Regions from separate parts of the Homo sapiens genome. Here all the other regions are linked to region 3. The links come from fine-mapping of genetic effects on gene expression. A gene starts in region 3. Each other region holds a variant in brackets. All regions are shown on one strand. Distances are between the middles of the regions.

What was found. PIP is the estimated chance that this variant, and not a neighbour inherited with it, causes the effect.
Region 1: its variant is the best candidate, but not a certain one, in a credible set for the expression of FRA10AC1 in prostate (GTEx, PIP 0.79).
Region 2: its variant is the best candidate, but not a certain one, in a credible set for the expression of FRA10AC1 in prefrontal cortex (CommonMind, PIP 0.90).
Region 4: its variant is the best candidate, but not a certain one, in a credible set for the expression of FRA10AC1 in sigmoid colon (GTEx, PIP 0.56).
Region 5: its variant is the best candidate, but not a certain one, in a credible set for the expression of FRA10AC1 in hippocampus (GTEx, PIP 0.73).

Annotation. Positions count from the first base shown.
Region 1 is chr10:93,745,956-93,750,955 of GRCh38, reverse strand. LOC101927013 (a long non-coding RNA gene) reads left to right here. Exons shown (of 3, transcript XR_246160.5): 2 at 972-1,149; 3 at 4,849-5,000. Among named protein-coding and RNA genes, the nearest start is that of LGI1, 9.5 kb to the left of the region's middle. RefSeq lists enhancers at 872-1,854, 4,201-4,952. The variant C/T (reference allele first, on the strand shown) is at 2,571.
Region 2 is chr10:93,739,734-93,744,733 of GRCh38, reverse strand. No RefSeq gene overlaps it. Among named protein-coding and RNA genes, the nearest start is that of LGI1, 16 kb to the left of the region's middle. The variant AT/T (reference allele first, on the strand shown) is at 2,413.
Region 3 is chr10:93,700,433-93,705,432 of GRCh38, reverse strand. It overlaps FRA10AC1 (FRA10A associated CGG repeat 1), which reads left to right and starts at 2,841. Exons shown (of 14, transcript NM_145246.5): 1 at 2,841-3,058. RefSeq lists an enhancer at 2,553-2,852.
Region 4 is chr10:93,732,223-93,737,222 of GRCh38, reverse strand. No RefSeq gene overlaps it. Among named protein-coding and RNA genes, the nearest start is that of LGI1, 23 kb to the left of the region's middle. The variant T/C (reference allele first, on the strand shown) is at 2,291.
Region 5 is chr10:93,723,016-93,728,015 of GRCh38, reverse strand. No RefSeq gene overlaps it. Among named protein-coding and RNA genes, the nearest start is that of FRA10AC1, 23 kb to the right of the region's middle. The variant A/G (reference allele first, on the strand shown) is at 3,053.

The DNA.
Region 1 (5,000 bases), 46 kb before region 3:
GTTTATCAAGATTCCAAACCTGTCACGGAATGACACCCAAGCGAATGGGAAGAAAGGCGGCAAGTTCTGCCTTTAAAAGCCTCCTTGTAGAGACCTCCGCACTCCCATGTTTACTGCAGCACTATTCGCAATAATCAAGATATGGAATCAAGTTAGATGTCCAACAACAGATGAATAGATAGAGAAAATGTAGCATATACACACCATGGAATACTATTTAGCCATTAAAAAACAGTGAAATCCTGCCATTCATGGCAACATGGATGTTGGAACTGGAGGACGTTATGTTAACGGAAATAAGCCAAAAACAGAGAGTTAAACACCACATGTTCTCATTCATACGTGGAAGCTTAAAAAAGTTGATCTCATAGGAGTAAAAAGTAGAACAGAGGATACTAGAGGCTGGGAAGGGTAGGGGGAGGTGGAGGGCATACAGAAAGTTTTGTTAAAGGACATAAAATTACAACTAGATAGGAGGAATAAGTTCTAGCGTTCTATACCACTGTAGAATGACAATAGTTAACAATAATAGAGTTTCAAATAGCTAGAAAGAGGATATTGAATGTTCCCAACACAAAGAAATGATAAATATCTGAGATGATGGATATGCTGATTACCCTGATGTATCAAAACATCGCTATGTGCCCCATGCATATGTACACTTATTATTTGTCAATTAAAAAATAAATATTTAAGAAAGCCTCCTTGAAGGCAGTACCCACAATTTATTTATCTTTTTATGCCCTTGATTAAATGATCATTACCTAGCAGAAACAGTTAAAATGGTCTTATAAAAGAGAAAAGTTAGTTTAGAGATGTGGGCTGGTACTTTGCTCTTAAAAAATAGAGTTTTTCTTAATTTTTATTACCAAAGTTAAGTATGCTGAATTTATACATTTCTATACCTGCCTTTAAACTCAAGCAGAACCTGAATTAACCATTGATTGGAGTTTATTGCTTATGTCCCCAAGGGAAGCGCCTCCTCTGGCTCATGCTGGTGGGAGAAAATGAACCAGCCCTGCTTTCTCTCCCTGGTTCAATTCCCAGCAAAGGAAAAACAATGTAATTCATGATGATGATGACAATGACAATGACGACAACAACAATAACCAACCTTTAACACATCCTTATAATGTGCCAGACCCTGCGGTAGGTGCATTAGAATAATTACCTCATTTAATTATTGTAACATAGTTTGGTTAATTTGCCCCCATTTTTCATATGAGCAAACTGAGGCATGGAGAGGCTAGGCAGCTTGCCCAAGAATAAGAGGCTGTGCTGGCTTGAAAGTGAGGCATTCAGACATTAGTGTCACATGCTCTTAATCGCTCCACAGCACCATCTCCTTGGATCGGAGTGATTTCCTGGAGCAAAGGTAATCTGATCTTATTCACACAGGAGCAGGCAATAACTGCCTGAGTACAGAACTCCTATGAGGCGATTGGTGTTGGAACCCTGAGTAGTCTAGTTACATAACCAGCATAACCCTTGGAAAAGCTGTCGCATAAGGGAAGGCTGCCTCTGGGACTAGAAGAAAGACTATGCCAAGATCTGGTTCTGCAATAGATGAGCTGTTTGACCTTGGGCTCAACGCTTCACATTTAGGCTCTGATTTTCAAAGGAAGTTCTTGGGCTGGGTAATCTCTGGAGATCCTGTCATGTAAGCAGCCCCTGCCAGCACTCCTACTGGGGAGTGATTACCATAAAGACAAGGAAAGTGTTAAGCAGGTTCTTGCACCTCCCAAAGTAAGTAGCAAATAGCTGTTTGGGTGTCCTGAGGAGTTCTGAAAACACTGGGCCTAGTTGCCTCCTGCTTCATCTTGCACCATATGCCTGAAGCTAGTGAATGAATAAACATCACTCGTGGCTATTTCTGGATGCTCAAGAAACTTTGAAAAAAAAAAAAGAATTATTATTTTTGAGGAGAGTATTATAGAAGACCCAGGGGAAGACAGGGTAGGGAGGAGAGTGAGGATTCTCTTTGTTGTGATCCTAGAATTCCCATTAGGTGGACTGGAAATGCTAGACTTACCATTGTTGGACTGGAAATGCTAACATCCTGAAACTCTTAGGACCTCTGCATGAAGAATTGTCCTGCCCCAAATGCTCTTAGCACCCCCACTGAGAAGGAGTAAAAGAGTTTCTCACAGTGGAAACACTGCGAACCTCTTTATGCATTTTTCTGAACATCAGTCAATAATCCATTAACTCGGGGAAGCTGAATGCTCTTCATACAGGAATCCAAAATAAATTGACAGATATCCTCTGGGAAGAACTGTAGAAAGGCTCTGTGGGCTTGAACAAGGCATTTCATTTCCTTGGGCCTCAGTTTCTTTATCTTTATAGCACTAACATTCTATAGCTTCCTAATTTCTCTCCCCAGAAAGGAGAAATAATTTTTAAACACAGAGGCTTAGAAAGAGTTTGTTTTCCAATTCGGGGCATGCTAGGTACATGTACTGCAGTTAACCAAAATGCACATGGTAAAGTTTAAGCCAAAAGAATGCAGAATCAGGCCGGGCATGGTGGCTCATGCCTGTAATCCCAGCACTTTGGGAGGCTGAGGTAGG[C/T]GGATCACAAGGTCAGGAGATCGAGACCATCCTGGCTAACACAGTGAAACCCCGTCTCTACTAAAAATACAAAAAATTAGCTGGGCATGGTGGCGGGTGCCTGTAGTTCCAGCTACTCAGGAGGCTGAGGCAGGAAAATGGCGTGAACCCGGGAGGCGGAGGTTGCAGTAAGCTGAGATCGTGCCACTGCACTCCAGCCTGGGCCAGAGAGCGAGACTCCATCTCAAAAAAAAAAAAAAAAAAGAAAAAAAAAAGAATGCAGAATAAAATTATCCCAGAATATTTTTAATAAGGTATGATCTTAATGACTTAGCATTTTTTTCTGGAAATATATTTGAATTTTATCAGAACTAAGCACCAAAAATTTAGGCAAGGTCATGGAAGGCCACCCTTTTTACTGGCTAGACTTGAATAGAAATCTACTCAAGAAAAGAAGTTTGTTAGGGAATTAAAAAAAAAGGATAATTCTAAGTCATGGGCAAGGTGGAAATAATCTAGCCAGAAAATATATTTGGGGGTGGTACTAAGGAAAAGCAGTGGCTCTAAGAGGTATTGCCCTAGAGCGGGGCATGGTTATTGGAATATAAAGTTGAAAATATGATTACTCTTCTATCTTCCTCTTCTTCTTTATGGCTGAATCACTCCCAAGATAGTTCTTAGCAGGTTTTTATTTATTTATTTATTTATTTATTTTTATTTTTGAGACAGAGTCTCACTGTGTCACCGAGGCTGGAGTGCAGTGGTGTGATTTCAACTCACTGCAACCTCCGCCTCCTGGGTTCAAGCGATTCTCCTGCCTTAGCCTCCCGAGTAGCTAGGACTACAGGCCTCCACCACCATGCCTGGCTAATATATATATTATATATATATATAGTATTTTTAGTAGAGACGGGGTTTCACTATGTTGGCCAGGCTGGTCTGCAGTTCCTTTTTTTTTTTTTTTAAAGATACTTCTTCATTCTTTCGAGGAAGTTATTAACTGCTTTTGTTTTGTTTTAGTTTTTTGGTTTAAGATTCTGAAGTTAAGAGGAAAATCATGCAACTAATCTGTTCATGCTTTGGAAACTTGAACTTCATGATGTTGGATTTCAGCCTTTTTGCTTTTGTCTTATCCCTTTAGAAGGGATCTGTTTTGTTTTGTTTGGCTTTATACTGTCGTTCTGGAAGAACTCAGAGCTTTCCATTGCTGCCCGTGACTTATGGCCTGTGTTACACCCATTGGTTTCTGTAGGAATGATGACCCAAGAAGCTGGGAATGTGACCGCAGAAAATAGCAAAGCAATGAGGAAACTGGTTATGACCATAGGATTAGTGCCCTGAGGGTCCAGGGCAGAAATGGGTGTTAACAGCAGAGAAGCACAAGGCTTCTGCACCAGCCTACTGCTGGCTCACATTCAACACTGCCCCTATTGCTCCCAGCAGTGCAGCAAAGAAGACAAAGGAACCCATGCTTGCTGGGCCCCCTGCAGGCCAGGTGCTTCCCATACATTGTCTCTGTTGATCATTTCACCTGCCGTGTGAGCAAGGCATTATCCCCACTGAAGCTTACAGAGGTTAGACTCGTCCAAGACAATATATTTTGGCTTCAAACTGACTTCTGTCTGTTTCCAAAAATATTTTTCATGTGACTTATTTTTGATGTATATAAACTTATAGACAGTTCTTGAATTCTTGTCTATGTGAAGCACATATTGTGTGAAGTATTTGCATGGGGCCAGGCGCGGTGGCTCACACTTGTAATCCAGCACTTTGAGAGGCTGAGGTGAGCGGATCACCTGAGGTCAGGAGTTCGAGACCAGCCTGGCCAACATGACAAAACCCCGTCTCTACTGAAAATACAAAAATTAGCCAGGTGTGGTGGCAGGCGCCTGTTATCCCAGCTACTCAGGAGGCCGAGGCAGGAGAATCACTTGAAACCGGGAGGCAGAGGCTGCAGTGAGTCGAGATTGCATTACTGCACTCCAGACTGGGTGACAGAGAGAGACTCTGTCAAAAAAAAAAAAAAAAAAAGTCTGCATGGTATTGTTTGCTTATATGATGTTTAGAACAAGGAAACGACTGAGGCTGACCATGCTCTGGCTCTGGAGGCTCTCTGGGGATACCTGGAGGAGTCTTTGGGTCACACCAAAACACTAGGATGCAGCCTAATGTGAAGATTACAACTCAAGTCTTGGCTTTGCTATTTAGCAGCTGAGTGACCTTGGGCAAGTTTTCATTGTCTCTCAGCCTCAGTTTCCTCATATATAGCATGGAAATAATACTAGTGTTTCTCTTACAGGATCACTGTGAAAAGAACATGAGATGCCCTTTGCAGGGACATGGATGGAGCTGGAAGCCATTATCTTCAGCAAACTAACACAGGAACAGAAAACCAAATACTGCATGTTCTCACTTATAAGTGGGAGCTGAACCATGAGAACATGGACACAG
Region 2 (5,000 bases), 39 kb before region 3:
AAGCTAAACCCACAGAGTTCCTGCCTTCTAGTGGAGGAGATGAGCAATTAAACAAGAGAAAACAAGTGCGGTGAGGGTGATGTGCAGGCTGGCGGAGCAGCAACAACAGCACAGAATCCTGACTACGGTTTGAACTAAACCTAAAGGGCCCCGACTCTGCCTTGATCTCTCCAGAAAGCCTCCCAGGGCCCTGACTTCCCTGTGCATGTCAGGTGACCACGGTGGTGGGCAGCTTCCCACCTCAGCCTCTTCCCTCAGTGAGATCTGGGAAACCTCCTCCCTCCTTTGCCTCTGAATTCTCACAAAGAGGACCAAGGGTTTTGAGGCATAGTTTTTAGGAAGAAAACAGGGAACAAGGAGAATAATAATAAAGAAGAAAAAAAGTACAAGAAGTAAAAGGTATCTTGCCTTACTGGGCCTTGGTTAGGTGCTGAACATTGTGCTAAGAATCTTTCGATGTATATTACAATGTGTTGTTCATTTCTCTGAGGTTGATATTGTTGATATGTCCATTTTTCCCGATAAGGAAACTGAGGGTAAAGAGGAGAAAGAAATAGGTCATAAACTTCACCAAAGGCAGAGCTATTATTTGAACCCAAGAAAATGTGAAAGTTAATTGATCATTTCTTAAGGGCAATTTTATTTTGTTTTTTGCAGGGGCAGTAGAGGGAGACGTTGTTGTTCCCAGAAAGGGGCCTTTAGGGAGAATAAAGAAAGGAATCCTTGATAGGGGTGCTAAATCCTCCAGTACCTGGTAGTGCTGGCCACAGGAGGAGCTCAATAACTATTGAATAAGGCAGTGAGGGAGGGCATGAGGAAGGGAGTGAGGGGATGAGTGTGGCCCCTCCCAGCCTACCAGGACCTGTATGGCTTTTCTCTCATGAATCCCAGTCACGAGCCAGCTGCCTGCATCCTCTTTTCTTCCATCTTGCAGCTGCCAGGCGTTTAGGGTAGCTTGGTGGTTGGTTTCCACCACTCTCCTCAGTCCTTGAAATCCTCATTCTTACAACACTCGCTGTACCTGGGACTTGGTCTCCATGGCTTTTCCAGATGTTACTGCCCTGGAAGTCAATCCCACAGGACCATTTTATTTTAAGGGTCAGAGGGCTATAGTAGTTCAAGACCCCGGTGGATGCCTGAAACCATGGATAATACTGAACCCTATTTAATTGTGCTTATATGGGTATTGATGATATAATATTGCAAAATTACTGCAGACATTATAATTACATAAAAAAAATAGTAAGTTGAAGAATAATTCCATGACAGTAAATCAGTCTAAAATAAATTAAAATAGAAAACTCCAAATTAATGGCAGCAAGTATATTTAAAAAATAAGAATATGAGTAAAAAGACAAGACCTGACAAAGGAGAGTTTCAACACTACAGTTTATGTATATATTATACTAAGTTTTGATTTTTTGTTCGTTTGTTTTTGAGACAGGGTCTTGCTATGTTGCCCAGGCTGGAGTGCAGTAGCTATTCACAGGCATGATGGTAGCTGATTGCAGCCTCAAACTCCTAGGCTCAAGGGATCCTCCAGCCTCAGCCTCCTGAGTAGCTGGGACCAGGGCAGCATACTCTTTTTGATCTGATAACTGAGACGGCTACTAAGTGACTAACGGATTGGTAGCGTATACATTGTGGATACACTGGATAAAAGGATTATTCACATCCGAGGGTGGAGTGGGAGGGTGCAAGATTTCATCATGCTACTCAGAATGGTGCTTAATTTAAAACTTACAAATTATTTATTTTTTAGAACTTTCCATTTAATATTTTTGGACCTCAGTTCACCGAGGGTAACTGAAACTTCAAAAAGTGAAACTGCAGATAACAGGGAACTACTGTATGACAAACAGTAAATATGAGGAAGTTGTAGAGGTTATGAAACCTTCCCAACCACTCCACGAATGACCTACTTTTAGCTCTGGCTATCATATAGTCTCCCCAGAGTCAGACGACAGTCTTGCCACTTGCCACCTGGGTAGTGGTGATCTTTAGCAGGTTACTTAATCTCCCTAACCATGTCTGTAAAATGGTCCCCATCTCCTCAGGTTGGAGTGAGCATTAAAGATGGTTCTGTATTTGAAATCTCTTAGTACAAAGAAAATGCTAAATAAATGTTGTCAAGGACTGAATTTTATCCCCCCAAAATTCATGTTGAAGCCTTAACCTCCAATGTGACTATATTTGGCGATAGCGCCTTTAGAAAGTAATTAAGGTCAAATGAGGTAAAAAAGGGTGGAGCCCTAATGCAGTAGGATTTCTGTCCTTAGGAAAAAGGGGGCCCGGCGAGGTGGCTCACACCTGTAATCCCAGCACTTTGGGATGCCAAGGCAAGCAGATGGCTTGAGCTCATGAGTTTGAGGCCAGTTGGGCAACATAGTGAAACCCCATCTCTATAAAAAA[AT/T]ACAAAAATTAGCCTGGCATGGTGGTGTGCACCTGTAGTCCAGCTACTTGGGAGGCTGAGGTGGGTGGATGGCTTGAGCCTGGGGGTGGCGGAGATTGCAGTGAGCCAAGATGTGCCTCTGCACTGCAGCCTGGGCAACAGAGCCAGACCTTGTCTAAAAAAAAAAAAAAAAAAAAAAGAAGAAGAAAGAAAAGAAAAGAAAAATGGAAGAGACACCAGAGGTGCACATGCACAGAGGGGAAAGGCCATGTGGGGACACAGACAGAGAGTGACTGTCTGCAAGAGACCTCAGGAAAAACCAACCCTGCCAACACGTTGATCCTGGACTTCCAGTCTCCAGAACAGTGAGAAAATATATTTCTGTTGTTTATGCCACCCAGTCTGTGATATTTCGTTATGGCGACCTGAGCAGACTAATACACATGTTCAGTCTACTTCCTTTGCTTTCCTTGTTGTTTGAACACATTTGCCAGGCAGTGTCAGAGCCCCTGTATTGGGAAGTGGTCAGTGTGTGGGTTGGTAAGAAGAATTTACCAAAAACAGTATAGATTTGAAAAAGGAAAGTTTTAGAAAGAAAGAATGCTGCAAAAGGGTGCAGCGGGGCACCTCAGTGAGAGAGGACTGAGCACACAGTGGTGGATTTTCCTTAGGAGCATTTATGGACCTTAAGGCGGGAGCTTAAGGGTAATTTTGACCATATTAGCCAGGTAGGTCATGATACATGATTACATCTGTAGACATTTTGGTGCCTTACTGTCAGCAAGGGTTGCACAATGAGTTTTGACATGCATGCATTCTGGAGGTGTATAGAAATTCTAGTTATGACATTTTTGAAAGAGATCTAGATGCTGACTTTAGATACTAGGGAAGTTTAATTACTTCTAAATTCCTCAGATAAGGAGTTTTTGTCTCTGGAGACTGCTCGATGGTCACCAGGTGATTTTCCTCTCCTCATTTGCTCCCTGACAAATATCTTGGTCATATCTTTGACCCTTTATATTTATATTCCCCCATGTTCATGTCTACCTGCTGCCTCCTGGGGTCTCAAGAAAGGGAAAATGGTCCAGTGAAGAGGGGTGATGAGTCTGTCTGGCTACTTCCTCCTGAAAGGGGGCTTTGAGGGGATAAGTTGCGTTTTTCTCTTTTTTGCTCTGTGTCATAAAGGAAATGAAGGGTCATGAAAAACTCAGTCACGAGGGGTGGGGACTGGATTCTATCAAGAGGCCCCGTATAAATGGAAGTTGCTGTTGCAGGCCAGTATTGAGACTGCATAGTCATCTGTAGGTGGAATCGTTGTATTCTGGAAGATACAAACTTAATGAGAGCATTAAAAATGCAGGGAGCAAATATTAAAAGAAAAATGACAAGGAAAAAAGGTCCAAGGAATGGGAGAAGCCCAGTCTTGGTTACTTTGGGAAAGTGTGTATAACCATTTGGCTTGTTTGAAAATTTACTGGGACATTAGTTTCCACTTCTCCAGACAACAGATTTTGTTGATGACAGCACAGACTCCTCCTTGTTCAGGTGGAGGTAATCAAGAACTCATCTATTATCAAAAACCATTTCTGCTAGTGAGTATAAAGACTTTTCTAGTGCTGATAGACTTGTGCCAGTTTTTTCTAAGATTATTTAAAAGGAGATGGTAAGTTCTTGTAGTGTGATTTCACGGTAAGTAAAACCTCCCCAAATAGTGACAGTTGTGATAGTTTCCACAACTCTGGCCACAATAAGTCCTAGGACCCTTTATCTTCTGGAATGGAATTCTGAATTGGAAGTTATACTCCAGACAGTGATTTGGGTGGGAGCTATTGTTCCTAGAGTACAATCATCAGAACGAAGGGAATTATCAAGGTAGAATAGGGCCAAAACTTGAAAAGGGTTTAAATAATTATTGGCAGAGCCACAAAGTCATAAGAGTCCATGAGGGGGCAGGTATTATAGTGTGATGAGCTTATGAATGCATAAAATATATGTAGATATGAATCTATTTTATCATATACTAGTGCAAAACATACACAAATCTATTATACAAAGTTAAAATTTATCAAATCTTACACAAACACTTATGGACCATACATGGTGCCATTTGCAGTCAACAGAAATGCAGCCAAGCATGGTGGCACATGCCTGTGGTCCTAGCTGCTTGGGAGGCTGAGACAGGAGGATTGCTTGAACCCAGGAGTTCAAGGCTACAGTGAGCCATGATCGCACCACTGCATTCCACCCTAGGCGACAGAACGAGACCCTGTTTCAAAACAAACAAACAACACCCAAAAACATAAAGATGTGGTATTAAGTCATAATTGCATAAAATGAACCGTAGTAATACTATGCTACTGTAATAGTCTTGTAGCCAACTTCTGCTGCTATTGCAGTGAGCCCGAATGTTGGGAGTATTCACTTAAAACACCGTGTGACACTATCATCTCCATGTGAGCCGTTCGCTTCTCTAGTAAATTGCATATCGCAGTAAAAATGATTTCCTGAGATTCGTGCGCATTTTTTCATCATGTTTAGTACAGTGCTATCAACCTTGAATAACACCATAGGACCCATACAAAGTTCCACTAGTGATGCTGGAAGTACT
Region 3 (5,000 bases):
CAAAGCTGTGGCCATAGGTATTAGCTTATGTTAGAGAAGTGTCAGCATCATATTATAAAAAGAACATGGAAAATGCAATCTTCTCAAAGACACACAGTATTAGAAGAATGCATATTCAGCCAGGCGCAGTGGCTCACCCCTGTAATCCCAGCACTTTAGGAGGCCAAGGCGGGATCACTTGAGGTCAGGAGTTCGAGACCAGCCTGGCCAACATGGTGAAACCCTGCCTCTACTAAAAATACAAAAATTAGCCAGGCATGGTGGCTCACACCTGTAGTCCCAGCTACTGGGAAGGCTGAAGCAGGAGAATGGCTTGAACCCGGGAGGTGGAGGTTGAGCTGAGATGGCACCACTATACTTCAGCCTGGGTGATGAAGTGAGACCCTGTCTCAAAAAAAAAAAAAAGAAAAGAAAAGAAAGAATGCACATTTGTTGGGCGCGGTGGCTTACGCCTGTAAGTCCAGCACTTTGGGAGACCAAGGTGGGTGGATCACCTGAGGTCAGGAGTTCGAGACCAGCCTGACCAACATGGTGAAACCCCATCTCTAGTAAAAAAATACAAAAATTAGCCGGGCGTAGTGTGCGCCTCTAGTCCCAGCTACTCGGGAGGCTGAGACAGGAGAATTGCTCGAACCCAGGAGGCAGGGGTTGGAGTGAGCTGAGATCACGCCACTACACTCCAGCCTGGGTGACAGAGTGAGACTCGGTCTTGAATAAAAAAGAATGCACAGTCATAGTTTATATCAGAATTATTACTTGGTATTATCACCACCATCATCACCCAACTTCCCTCATCCTGACCACATACTTAATATAGTATTTTGTTGCTTTGAGTTACATAGCATTGGTGCACATTTAAATTTTCATATCCATTGAAATAACATATTTTATAAATTAGGAACAACAGGTTCATGCATGTACTAGACACTTGGTATATGATAGAATATATTGTTGTAGTTATTCCACACATTGTCTGTCTTACTAGTCAACCTTCAAGGATAAGGAGTTGCTGTTACATACCTGTAACCCTGATGTCTAGGGCAGTGTCCTGCCCAGAGTAGGCACTGAATAAATGTTTGTGTTTTTTATTGTTGTTGAGCTATAATTGTTAACTTGAGATTTCCTAAGCAGGTGGGTTTTCTATCCTGTATTATTTCTAGTTCAGATCATGCAATCTATGCCTAATATATATTTTCTATTTACTCTTTTTCAGTAACTGCTGTCTCAAAGTAAAAAATGGAAATCTTTGCCTGAATGGACTGGTAGCAACAGATCTGAAATTCTTAGAAATGTTGGAACCAGAAGCTACTTCCCACACAATCCATGAAGTGGGGGAGAGAGAGACAGAGAGAGAGAGAGAAAAGAGAGAAAGAGAGAGAGAGAAACTGGGTCTTATAGAGAGACAGACACAAGTACTACCCAGTTCTCGACCCTCACCAGGTTTGTGGCTTTAGGTTCTGTGCCTCTCTTCCTTATGTGTAAAATGAGGCTAATAACACAGCAGCACAGGGTTGTTGGAAGAGTAAAATGAAGCAACAAACAAGAAGATGCTAGGGATGGTAGAAAAATGCTAATAAATGTCAAATATGGATAGAAAGGAAATTGGATATGAGGTATAGGTCTGTTTAGTTTTATTAACAATAAAATAATTATATATTTAATATATTTACCAAAAAAGAAACTGCTTGACAAAATAATTCCATATACTATAACGTCAAATTGTAAGGCTTCCTATTGCTTTCACTTTTTTTAGTAAAAGTTTTTATTGAAGTATAATCTGATTGCATTTTGGAATAAGTTAATTTACAATAATTTAATTTATCTTATAGCCTTTTAAGATCACATTCAGTGCAATGGATAAAGCAGAATGTATCTATAATTTATTGTCAGGGTTAGAGACTTGAACTGATAAGGATATCGTTATCTACTGTTTAGGGCAAAAGATGTAAAATGACTGTGCATTAAGTGCCAAGGTTTTCTCTAAAAAGGGCCCACTGTAAACGCCAGAAGCGTGCCAGTTCAATTCAACAAATATTTAATTAGCACTTGTGATTTCCAAGGCACCGTTTTGGGTACTGAGGAGGAAGCAAAAAATGAATAGCTGCTAATGCCAGCGAGAGACAAGACATGAACCAAACAACTAGAGTGGAAAGAGTGGGGCGTCGTGATGTAGAAAACGCAAAGCACAGGAAGAACCTAGTGGCGCTTAAAATAATCCAACTTTTCCTGCCTTTTTTCTTCTTCTTTTTAAGATTCTATTTTGGATCCCTTTTCGCATGTGCCAGGTCGCTTGTCGGCAGAGAATCCTCAACCCTGAGAAATCTCTCCTCCTATTCTTTCTTTCCTCACAAATTCGATGAGCTCTTCTGCCATCAGCACTGCTTTTGGAATGGTATCTATTGTGTGGGTGGCGAAACGATGGAGAGATATTTTTGTTCTAATTATGAGAACTGTTTTACTGGGGGAAGGAGGGAGAGGCTGATCTGAAGCGCTGATGAGCTGCTCTGAGAGGATCCTCCGAGGAGGCGTTACTAAGGTTACTAGAGAGAGGACGGCAGGTGATAGGCACGGTAAAACAAAATATATTTTCAAATGAGAGGCGTGGGCTAAGCAGCAAGCAGTGCCAGCGGTACTAGATGCCGGATTCCCTAGAGGGGAAAGGAAGGAGGCCCAGGGAAAAACTGGGAGCCGCGACTTGGCGAAAGCTGGAAGCCTCTTCGTCCCTTTCCGGGCCGTTTCTCCCGCTGCCCTTGTTTCCCGGAGCTGTTCTGGCTGTAGCACAAGGTCGGCGCACTCGGGGGACGGTGCCATTTAGATGTAACACGTGGCCGTGTCGGACCGGAAGTGGTGCCCAGTCGGGACCCGTAGGGAGAGGCGGGTTGCGGGCGGCGGCGGCGGCGGCGGCGGCGGTGGTGGTTGTGGCGAGGCTGTGCGGCAGGGCGCACGGGACCTGTGCTGCAGCGGCTCTCTCAGGCCGTGGGTCGTCGCTGCAGCTGCCGGGAAAGAAGGAAACGACGACTCCGGGGGCGAACTTGGCACACAGGGAGGAAGGGAAAGGGTGTGTGAGGAGGGCTGTGGGTATATTTGGCATCAGGGAGAAGGACCTCAAAACTTGTTTTTCATATAGTACTAGCTGATCGTCGGGTTTTTTTTTGTTTTGGTTTGGTTTTTTTTTTTTTGGATGACAGATTCTGGAGACACCTGGCATCTCCGTTTTTGAGTTTCTCCCCGCTCTTGTCAGTTGATTCGTAGGCCTGAAGTGAGTGAGAGCTTTTTAGTTCAACCAGTGAGTTAAGATAGGTATGGGTCGGATGGAGCGGCCAGCGAATAAAGAAATGGGAGAGTGGGAGCAAGAATAGGAAGTCGTGTCCTGGGGCGAGGGAAAAGATGATGATGATGATGTAACATTTACTGGGTTTCACTGTACAAGACACCGTTAAAACCCTTTAGATGAGGCAACTCTTTTAATCTCCATTCGTATGAGGTCAGCCATCTTACTAGCCTCTTTTTATAAATGAGGACACTGAGGCTTGGAGAGGTTAAGGAACAGGCCCAAAGAAAGACAAATGGAAAGTGCAGAGCCAAGCAGTGAAATCTAGTAGGCTGATCCTAGAATATATCTCTAAACACACTACAGCTGTCCCCCATCAAGATGTAAAGAACGTGAGGACATAGGACAAAGAGTGAGAGGACAATATGGCTTGAACAGATGTGGTAAGACAGCTGGAGTTGACCTAAAAAAGGGTGTAAAATCCAGGTGTGTAAGGCAATAACAGATGTAAGGGAGGGTAGAGTTGGAACTCGGGCTTTCAAACCTTCATCTCCAACCTTAACTAGCATCTTCCTATCTAGGATTTTAGTGGGGCAGAGAAGAGAGGTATATACCCACACACCTATGTTTGAAAATGGAATTACAGACTTTAAAGGTTATTTAAAGATTTAAACAACTTAAAGATTATTTCATGTAGCTATCTTATTTAATAGATGAAGTCCAGGGAGATGAAATGACTTATTCAAGGTAGCCAGGACTAGAAACATGTCGTTTACCCTAGATCCAATGCAATGAAGTTTAGAGAGTTCTTTCCTCTTTTTCCAGCTGCACTTGCTGTCGTTATATTAGTTTTAACAATTTGATATATCATTTAACCTGGACTGTTCCTTCCAGCCATGTAAATTAGTTATGTATGACATCAAATAGTCCATCCTTCCTTCTTAGTGTGTGTTCCAAATTCAGTGCAAAGCTGGAACTAGGAGCTTCTTCCAATACAATTGAGTGGCAACTGAGGTCTTCCAGCATTTCTAAGAATTTCAGTTCTAAAATGAAGTCCCAGCATTTTGGGATGCTGAGGTGGACGGATTGCTCAAGCCCAGGAGTTTGAGACCGGCGTGGGCAACATGGCGAAACCCCTTATCTACAAAAAAAAAATTTTTTTAAGTTTGCCAGGTGTGATTATGCACTCCTGTAGTCTCAGCTACTTGGAGAGGCTGAGGTGGGAGGATTGATTGAGCCCAGGAGGTTGAGGATGTGAGCCATCAAGGCGCCACAGCACTCCAGCCTGAGCAATAGAGCGAGACTCTCCAAAAATAACTGGATAAATAAAATGAAACAAGAGAAAGCTGACTAATCCAAAGGGCAAGGTGGTTTACCTTAAAGAAACTCAAAAGAAAATGGAAATCTCTACATATATTGAAAAAGATTACAGGAAAATTTTCATCAATTGATGATGTACTGTTCACAAATACTGTAATTCTCCTGGAATATAGTAAATCATATTCCAGAGAGGAAATTTGGAGTAATTGAAATTGTGGGCGCAGGAATCAAGTACAGCAGATTAGCCACTTACTGGATTTGTAAATAGATTTACTTAACTTTGATTACTTCATTCCTAAATGAAGATAACTTTCTAACTTGCAGAATTAGAAGTGTTGTTTGTAAAGTATTTAACACAATGTCTAGAACAAAGTTGGTGATAAACACACAGTGATTATTACTACTCTGA
Region 4 (5,000 bases), 32 kb before region 3:
GTCATATATGGTCTTTATTATTTTGAGGTATGTTTTTTCTATAGCTAATTTGATGAGGACTTTTATCATAAAGGGATGGTGAATTTCATTGAATGCTTTTTTTGGCATCTATTTAAATAATCATATGGTTTTAGTTTTTGCTTCTGTTAATGTGATGTATCCCGTTTATGGATTTGCATATGTTGAACCATCCTTCCATCCCTGGGATGAATCCCACTTGATCATAATGAATGATCTTTTTAATGTGTTGTCAAATTCAGTTTGCTACTATTTTGTTGAGAATTTTTGCACCTATGTTCATCAGTGATATTGGCCTGTAGTTTTTTTTTTGTTGTTGTATCCTTGTCTGGTTTTAGTATCAGGGTAATGGTGGCTTTGTAGAATAAGTTTAGAAGTATTTCCTTATCTTCAATTTTTTTGGAAGAGTTTGAGTAAAATTGGTATTAGTTCTTTTCTAAATGTTTGGTAGAATTCAGCAGTAAAACCATCAAGTCCTGGGCTTTTCTTTTATGGGAGACATTTTATTACAGCTTCAGTCTTGTTACACATTATTGGTTTACTGAGTTTTCTATTATTTTCATGGTTTAATCTTGGTAGGTTGTATGTGTTCAGGATTTTAACCATTTCTTCTAGGTTTTCCAATTTCTTGGTGTATAGTTGTTCATAATGTTACATAATGATTCATTGTATTTCTGTGGTCCTAGTGGTTATGTCTCTTTTTTTGTTTCTAATGTCATTTAATCTGGTCTTCTCTCTCTCTTTTTTTTTTAGTCTAGCCAAAGGTTTATTGATTTTGTTTGTCTTTTCAAAAAAACCCAACTTTTTGTTTCATTGATCTTCTGTACTGTTTTTAGTCTCAATGTCATTTATTTCTGTTCTGATATTTATTATTTCTTTCCTGCTACTAATCTTGGGTTTGGTTTATTCTTGCTTTTCTGGTTCCTTGAGCCGCATCATTAAGTTATTTATTGGACGTCTACTTTTTAAAATATAAATGTTTGTTGTTATAAGCTTTCCCTTTAGTACTGCTTTTTCCATATCCCATAGATTTTGGCATGTTGTATTTCCATTTTCATTTGTTTCAAGAAGTGTTTAAATTTCCTTCTTAATTTCTTCATTGATCCATTGGCCATAATTTAATTCAGAAACTATACAAACACATAGAAATTAAACAACATGCTCCTGAATGAGTTTCCTCTTATTGTTGATTTCTGGTTTTATTCCATTGTGGTCAGAAAAGATACTTGATATGATTTCTACTTTTTTGCATTTGTTCAGACTTGTTTTATGGCCTAAGATATGGTCTATTCTTAAGAATGTTCTGTGTGCTAATGAAAAGAATGTGTATTCCACAGCAGGTAGGTAACATATTCTGTGAATGTCAGTTAGACCTATTAGGTCTTGTGTGTAGTTTAACTCTGCTATTTCTTTGTTAGTTTTCTGTCTGGAAGATCCATTCATTACTGAGAGTGAAGTATTAAAGTCCCTTGTTACTATTGTATTTCAGTCTGTCTCTCCCTTGAGATCTATTAATGTTTGCTTTATATACTTGGGAGCTCCAGCGTTGGGTTGCATATATATTTGTAATTGTTATATCCTCTTGCTGGATTGACCCCTTTATAATTATATAGTGACCTTCTTTGTCCCTTTTTACAGTCTTTGATTTGTAGTCTATTTTATCTAAGTATACCTCCTCCTGGTCTTCTTTTGGTTTCCAGTTGCATGGAGCATCTTTTTTTACCCCTTCCCATTCTGTCTATATATGTCTTTATAGGTGAAGTGGGTTCTTGTAGGCAGTACATATTTAGGTCTTTTTTAAAAAAAAATCTACTCTGCTGTTCTATGCCTTTTAATTGGAGAATTGAGACCATTTATATTCAGTGTTATTATTGATAAGCAAGGACTTACTATTGTCATTTCGTTGCTTATTTTCTGATTGTTTTGTAACTCCTTGCTTCTTTTCTTACTGTCTTCCTTTGTGGTTAAGAGATTTTCTCTGGTAGTATGTTTTAATTTGTTGCTTTTTATTTTTAGTGAATCTATTACAGGTTTTTGCATTGTGGTTACCATGAGGCTTACAAGAAATATAGATATAAAAAGTTATTTTAAAGAGATCATAACTTATCTTGGATCATAAAGAATAGAAACAAAAAAATGAAAAAAACTATGCTTTAACTCCATCCCTTCCACATTTGACTTTTAGTTATCTCATTTACACATTTTTATATTACCTATCTCTTAACAGGTTGCAGTAGCTTTTTTATATAGATTTGTCTTTGGGGCTTCGTAC[T/C]ACAGTTATGAGTAGATTGCACACCACAATTACAGTATTAGAGTATTCTGGGTTTGTCCATGTATTTAATTTTACCAGCGGGTTTTATACCTTCGAATGTTGTTGTTTCTGCATGTTAACTTTTTTTTCAGATTGAAAAACTCCCTTTAGCATTTTTTAAGAGACAGGTCTGGTGGTAGTGAATTTTCTCAGCTTTCGTTTGTCTAGAAAGGTCTTTATCTCTCCTTCATTCGTTTTTTATTTTGTTAGTTTTTTTGTGGTATAATATTCATAATATAAAATTCTAATTTTAACAATTATTAACTATTCACTTCAGTGGCATCATATGCATGAACAATGTTGCAAAAATGTTATTATTTATTTTTAGAACTTTTTCATCATCCCAAACAAAAACTCTTTTTTTCCCTCTCTTTTTCATATTTGAAGAATAACTTTGCTGAATACGGTACTCTTGGATAGCAGTTTTTTTTTCTTTTAGCACTTTGAAAATGTCGTTTCACTCCCTCTTGGCCTGTATGGTTTTCACTGAGAAGTCTGTTGCCAGACAAACTGGAGCTCCTTTATATGTTATTTGCTTTTCTTTTGCTGCTTTTAGAATTTTCTGTTGTCCTTGACATTTGAGAGTTTGATTATTATGTGCCTTGGGGTAGTTTTATCTGGGTCAAACCTGTTCTGTATTCCCTGAGCTTCCTGTATCTGAATATTTATGTCTTTCTCAAGTTTGGAAAGTTTCTGTTATTATTTCTTTGAATAAGCTTTCTAACCTTTGCTATTGTTCAACTTCCCCTTCATCACCAATAATTCTTAGATTTGGCCTTTTGAGGTAGTTTTCTGTATCTTGTAGGCAATCATTGCTTTTCATTCTTTTTTCTCCTTTGTCTGTGTGTTTTCAAATAGCCTGTATTCAAGTTCACCGAGTGTTTCCTCGACTTGATCTATTCTGCTGTTGAAAGCCTCTAATGAATTTTTCAGTATGACAAATGTATTTCTCAGTTCCAAGATTTCTGTTTTTAAAAAATTATTTCAATATCTTTGTTAAAATCCTCTGATAAATTTCTGAATTGCCTTTCTGTGTCATCTTGGAGATCACTGAATTTCCTTAAAACTGCTATTTTGAATTCATCAGATAGCTCACATATCACCATCTCATTAGGGTCAGTTACTGGTTTCTTTGCTTTGTCTATTTGGAGAGTTCATGTTTCTGTTTGCTGTTGTTTCTTGTGGACCTACATCTATGTCTTTGCATTGGAAGATCGGTTATGTATTTCTCCTCTGTCTGGCTTGTTTTGGTTTTTATTGGATATGTTTGCTTGAAGTTTCTTTACTGCTAGGTCACAGCCTCCTTTTTGGCTCTAGGTGGTGCCTTAAGCCCAGGTTCACTTTGGCTCCAGTAAACGATTATAGCACTGTCCTTTCCAAATAGGGGAGGTCCCAAAGGGGATGCACTGGTAATTTGGGAAGGCTGTCTAGAGGTTTGTGCCCAGGGGACTTGTAGGATGAATCCCCTACAATGTGGCAATGCAGAAAAGCTGCTCTGTTTTGGTGCCTCCTTTGGCTGAGTGAAACAGCATAGTTTCCAGGGCTGTAAATGGCAGTCTTAACTCCCCTCTTTGTCTCTGCCTGTTCTCGGGAATATTTCTCCCTTCAGGTGCTCATGATGCTTCCCATAGGTTAAGGCAAGGAGAGGTCTCCTGACAGGGAAACCAAAATGTTGGAGAAACTGGTTGTCCACCTCAATTTCACTTTTTTGAGGGGGATATCTTTCTGTTTTGTGCTGGGAAGAATGGAAGGAGGGGTACTGCAGATGTGGAAGTCTGAGTATATTACCATCTGCTTAAAGTTTATTTATTTTTATTTTTTTAACTTCGCTGTGGCCCCAGAAACTCTCTCATGTTGATATTTTGGCTCTGGGATATTTCTGGTTATGATCTCAGAGCTGTATATTTGTTTTTGGTTTTCTGTTGGGGAGAGTGAAGCAAGCTTGTTTCTACATTACCATTTTGGAATCAAAAGCTGAAATACCCTTTAATCTTGTATTGAAAATACAGCTTTTACGTGGATGCAGGACTGCTATAAGAAAGGCATACCCATAGACTCTAATATGATTAGTGAAAAAACAAAGTCCTTACATAACAAAGCATAAGGAAGGTGAAGGAACTAAAGCTGGAGCATTTAATGCCAGCGAAGTATGGTTTGATAATTTTAGAAAGAGATTTGCCTTTAAAAATGTCAATATAAGAGAATAAGCAGCCCTTACCAACCAAGAGGCAGCAGATAAATTCCTGGACACTGTTAAGAAAATCATTGAGGGCTAAGTGCAGTGGCTCACACCTATAATTCCAGCACTTTGGGAGGCCAATGTAGGCAGATCACATGAGGCCAGGAATTCGAGACCAGCCTGCCCAACATGGTGAAACCCCAACTGTACTGAAAATACGCACACACAAAAAAATTAGCCAGGCATGGTGGTGTGTGCCTGTAATCCCAGCTACTTGAGAAGATGAGGCAAAAAAATCACTCGAACCAGGAGGCGGAGGTTGCAGTGAGCCAACTCGTGCCATGGCACTCTAGCCTGGGTGACACAGAAAGACTCTATCTCAAAAAAAAAAAAAAAAATCATTGAGGAGAAAGAATATCTACCTGAACAAGTTTTCAGTGCAGATGAGATTGTGGATATGGCAAAAAAAAAAAAAAAAAAAAAATGGAGGGA
Region 5 (5,000 bases), 23 kb before region 3:
CCTAAAAATCTCTAAGAATCTTTTAGGACTGTCAATAGTTATCTGTCTTGATACTGTAGTAATATTAAAACAAATAGGGTCTCATTCTAGATAACTGAACTTTATGGTTTTTGCACTGATGTAAAGCAACACAAACAGCAGACAACAGAGCCCTTTGGTGGACTCACCAGACTTTCTGGTTTCTTCTATGAGGTAATATTAACTAATTAACAATGAATAAGTTAATCACTTTGGACTATCTGCTCCTGGTACTTCTATCAGGGTACTTCATGGGAAAAGTACCCTATAGGAGTAGGATAGGTTCCCCTGATCAATAAGATGAACTTCAGTTATTATGGTTTGAGCACCATATTAGTCTGTTTTCACGCTACTGATAAAGACATACCCGAGACTGGGTAATTTATAAAGAAAAAGAGGTTTAATGGACTCATAGTTCCACATGTCTAGGGAGCCCTCACAATCATGGTGGAAGGCAAAAGGCACGTCTTACATGGCAGCAGGCAAGACACAGAATGAGAGCCAAGTGAAAGGGGTTTCCCCTTACAAAACCGTCAGATCTTGTGGCACTTATTCACTACCATGAGAACAGTATGGGGGAAATCGCCCCCATGATTTAATTGTCTCCCACAGGGTCCCTTCCACAACACCTGGAAATTTTGGGAGCTACAATTCAAGATGAGATTTTGGTGGGGACACATCCAAACCACATCAAGCACTAAAACAAATGAGACATTATTTTGCACCAAAGGTAGATGAAGCAGGACATGCCAATCAAATTGATGAAATAAAGCACCTTTAATTTTGTGTCTCATTTACTTCCTCAAATTTCTGATGTACTGAAATGATTCAGTAAGTGCATACTAAGGGCTTGTCATCTGCTGGGCACTCTTGAAAGTGCTGGAGTGTGGCAGGGAACCAGGTAGAATGGTCCCTAACCTCAAGGAGCTTCTGGTCTGTACCTAGAAGCTCTTGCTCTGTTTTCAGAGTCTCTCTTTTGCTGGTATCTGGCTATGATAGAGGGAATTCAAAAGCAGCTTTAAAATGTTTTCTGCAGAAGAACAAAGCAGTAGTTACCAGTATGAGAAGAGGGGAATTGCTACTTTGACACCTACAAATTGAAGGATGGATGCCTTTGTTTCACATCTGTTTTCTCCATGTGAGAAGCAGCCAGCTCCACTGATTGTGTACTGTTGAGGGTGACCACTCCATTTTTCTCTCCTGGAAACATGTAATTTAATGTGAAGCATCTATTGATGAACTGCAAGTATGAAGAATTCTCAGGATAATGTACTTGATTTTCCCCTTGAAATGCAATTCACATTTATTAAGTATCTTTTCTATACAAGGCATGGAGCAAGGTGCTTCATGCACATAATCTCATTTAAGCCTCACAGTTGCCTCTGAGGTAGGTGCATCATTAGCCAGCTTTTATAGACAGGATAAAAGGGAAAAGAGGAAATGGTAGCCCAGGATTCCAAAAAGTGCAAATTCATTTCCAGTGGATGAATACACTTATGATTTTGTTTCTCTTAGATGGGTTATGATAAACATCTTTAATATTAATACCTGCCTTACATTTGCATAATTCTTTCAACTTTTCAAAGCACCTCTTTTATACCTTATTTGATGCTCATGCTAAGCCCTATGCTCCTAACAGTCTCGAACTCCTTGATGGTGTCTCTTTGAGAGCCTAAATCTCTGCAGAGCTGGCTTTTGTTGCATAGCTAAGGTTCAGGACTAAGCTAATAAAAATCTTGCTTCCAGACATCTAATCTGCATCTTCATTTGCAAGGTCTCCTTGGGATGGTGTGACCTGCTGTTTAGTAAGGACATCAGTGCTCTCATACCAGTGATTACTATGGTTACATCTGCCCCAACATTCTCTAAAGCCCTAGATTTTAGAAATATTGGTGTCTTTACTACCTTGTCCTTGTCTGGATCTTCCTGTCATGCCTGAGTTAATGATAGCCAAAGGGAAAGGAATGAAATAAAAAGAAGGAAAAAGACAGCTCTGCGAGCTTGTACACTGAGGTGCATATATTCTCAAAAAAACCAGAAACCAGCCTAAATGAAGAGGGAGGGGATGGTGGCAGATGAAGCATAAAGCAGGTGCTTACTTAATTGCTGCAGCTGGTGCCAAGTGTTTGGCATAATTTTTCTCCTTATTTTCAATTATTGGCACTGTTATTTTACTTTTTAGCTGAAGCATCTGAGAACAGTCTAGGAAGCTTCTCTGCTCCTCTCACTTTTACAGGAAAGCAAGCAGGCATTTTTTTTCCTGAAAATATTGTAAATAAACACAATCCTTGAAATTTTTTCTTGTGCCCCAAAACAACTCATCGACTATAGAAAAGGAAGAGAAATTGGCTGAAATGCAATTTGACGTTTTCATTCTGCCAAAATTACTATGGGTTGAATTTTTAATTTGATTCAGAAGACGATTCAACTCTTCAGCCTCATCTATGTGATTTTGATTTCAGAATAGCATGTCTGAGACCAGAGCTTCCTAAGCTGTTTTCTTTTAAAACACAGATTGTTAAATTCTCCAATTGACATGGCATATTCATTTTGCTATTTGACTTTTTTCTTTTAAGTAGTGAAGGTAAAAGTTGCAAAAATATTGGATGAAAGTCATTTCATGCCCTGTTATTCCACCAATTTTTAAGAAGAGTAAGCGCTGTGCCAAAACCTTATATAGAACAATGTGCAAAAAACAATACAAGGACCCATGAGGAATGCAAAGATAAACAAGATGTAGTCTTTTTCTTTCAGCAGATTTAGTCCTGAAAGGAGAATAAAATGAGTACAAGCAGTAACATAACAGTTTTGAGGGAAGTAACAATGATATGCTAAAAAAAAAACAGCACACGTCTATCAATTACTTTTGATGGCAGATCTAACATAAAGAAAATAAAAATGTTTCATCTTTCTCCCTTTTAAAGTAATTCTGCTTAGAGAATGCTATTTAATCACTGTATTTAAGGTGACATTTGAATTCTGAAGGTTTTATCTCCTATTGACTCTATTCTAGAGAGAGAGAGAGAGAGAGAAT[A/G]CGCATGTGCACAGTTTTGAGCAGAAAAAAATATTTTTATTTTAGAATTTTGTTTCAGATTGCATTTCAGGAAAAGGAAAGGAGAAAAATCGTGCTCCCAGAGGGCATTGGGAAATGTGGGTTACAGTCTTGTTTTCACCTTCAGCCATTTGTGTTTCTGGGTTCCTGAGTGCTTAGGCTGGGTTACTCCAAGTTTCCTTTCAGTCTTCATAGTCTGAGTGTGATGCCTCGCATCTTGTCCTGAATGAATCCAGTGGCTTTCCCATAGGGAGCAAAGGAAACTGAAGGCTTGAGGGAGTATCCAAGGTGCCAGGAGGTGTAGGGAAGAAAGAATGGTACTACTGGATGAGACACTCTTGGGCCTCTCGGTTTTCTTAACTTCCTATTTAAATACTTCATCATTTGTAGAAAGCCTTAAGTTCAGAGCCATTCACAATTTATACTGGGTCTGATTCCTTTTCATTCCCACTGTAGCATTGGCTTTTAAGAATGTAGAAGCATGGCCTAGCCAAAATATATATATATATGATTTACAGGCTAGTTAGAGTTTGTGCTGAGCTGTGTCTGCAAATAAGCCTTTAAGGTAAATGAAAGAAGTTCTAAAGAACCTGAAAAGGAAATGGGAGAGAGTGTGATGTGACAGTGAGGAATGTCATTTTTCTCTGTGGTTCTTTCCTGTCTAATTTCACAGCCAGCAACCTGGTCCAGGCTCTAATTAACCACATGTCCATAGGCTGCTGCTGATGCTCTAACAATATCCAGTCTTCAGACTGTTCCTGTCCAGTTTACACATCATTGTCCTTCCTCAAACACTCCCTTCACCATGGTGCTTCCCTAGGCAGTGATTTATTATGAGTCCTTGTTACCTGGTACAACTCATCTCTTTTGTTTATTTACTTATTTATTTATTATGATTACATATATTTAAAGTATACAACATGGTGTTTTGATATACATAGAGCTAGTGAAATGATTACTGCAGTCAGGCAAATTTACACATCCACCACCTTGCATGGTTACCTTTTTGTGTGTATTTGTGGCAGAAGCTTCTAAAATCTATATTAACAAATTTTTAGCATACAAAACAATATTATTAAACTCTAGTCCTCATGCAGTCCTTTAGATCTCTAGACTTATTCCTCCTACCTAACAGCAAGTTTATACCCTTTGACCTACATGTCTCCATTTTCTCCCAATCTCTGCCCCTAGTAACGACCGTTCTACTCTCTATTTCTATGTATTGGACTTTTTAAATATCCTACATACAAGTGAGATCATGCCATATTTTTCTTTCTGTGTCTGGCTTATTTCACTGAGCGTAGTGTCTGTAGGTTTATAAGTGTCACAAATGGGGATATCTCCTTTTTTTTTTAAGGTTGAATAATACTTCATTGTATACACAAGAATTGTACCACACTTTCTTTATCCGTTCATCCACTGATGGACAGTTAGGTTGTTTCCATATCTTGGCTATTTTGTGAATAATGCTGCAGTGAACATGGGAGTGCAGATTTAGCACTATGAGGTGCTAATTTCATTTCCTTTGGGTATATACCCAAAAGAGGAATTGGTGGATCATATGGTAGTTCTATTTTTAAGTTTTTGAGGAATCTCCATACTGCTTTCCATAATGGTTATACAAATTTACATTCCCATCAGCAGTGTGTGAAGGTTCCCTTTTCTCTACACTTTTTCTAACACTTGCTATCTCTTGTCTTTTTGATAATAACCATTTTAATATGTGTGAGGTGGTAACTTACTGTGGTTTTGACTTGCTCATCTCAAATCTTTAGCCCAGGGTTCGAGGTCCTTCATCCAGGAAGCATGGTATTAAAAATAGGAGACTGAGCTTTAGTTTTGGCCTTTGCAGCTTTAAAGCTGTATGATTTTGGGCAAGTTGTTGAACTTGAACTTCCCTTGCCTTCATTTTCCTCTTCTGTAAAATGAC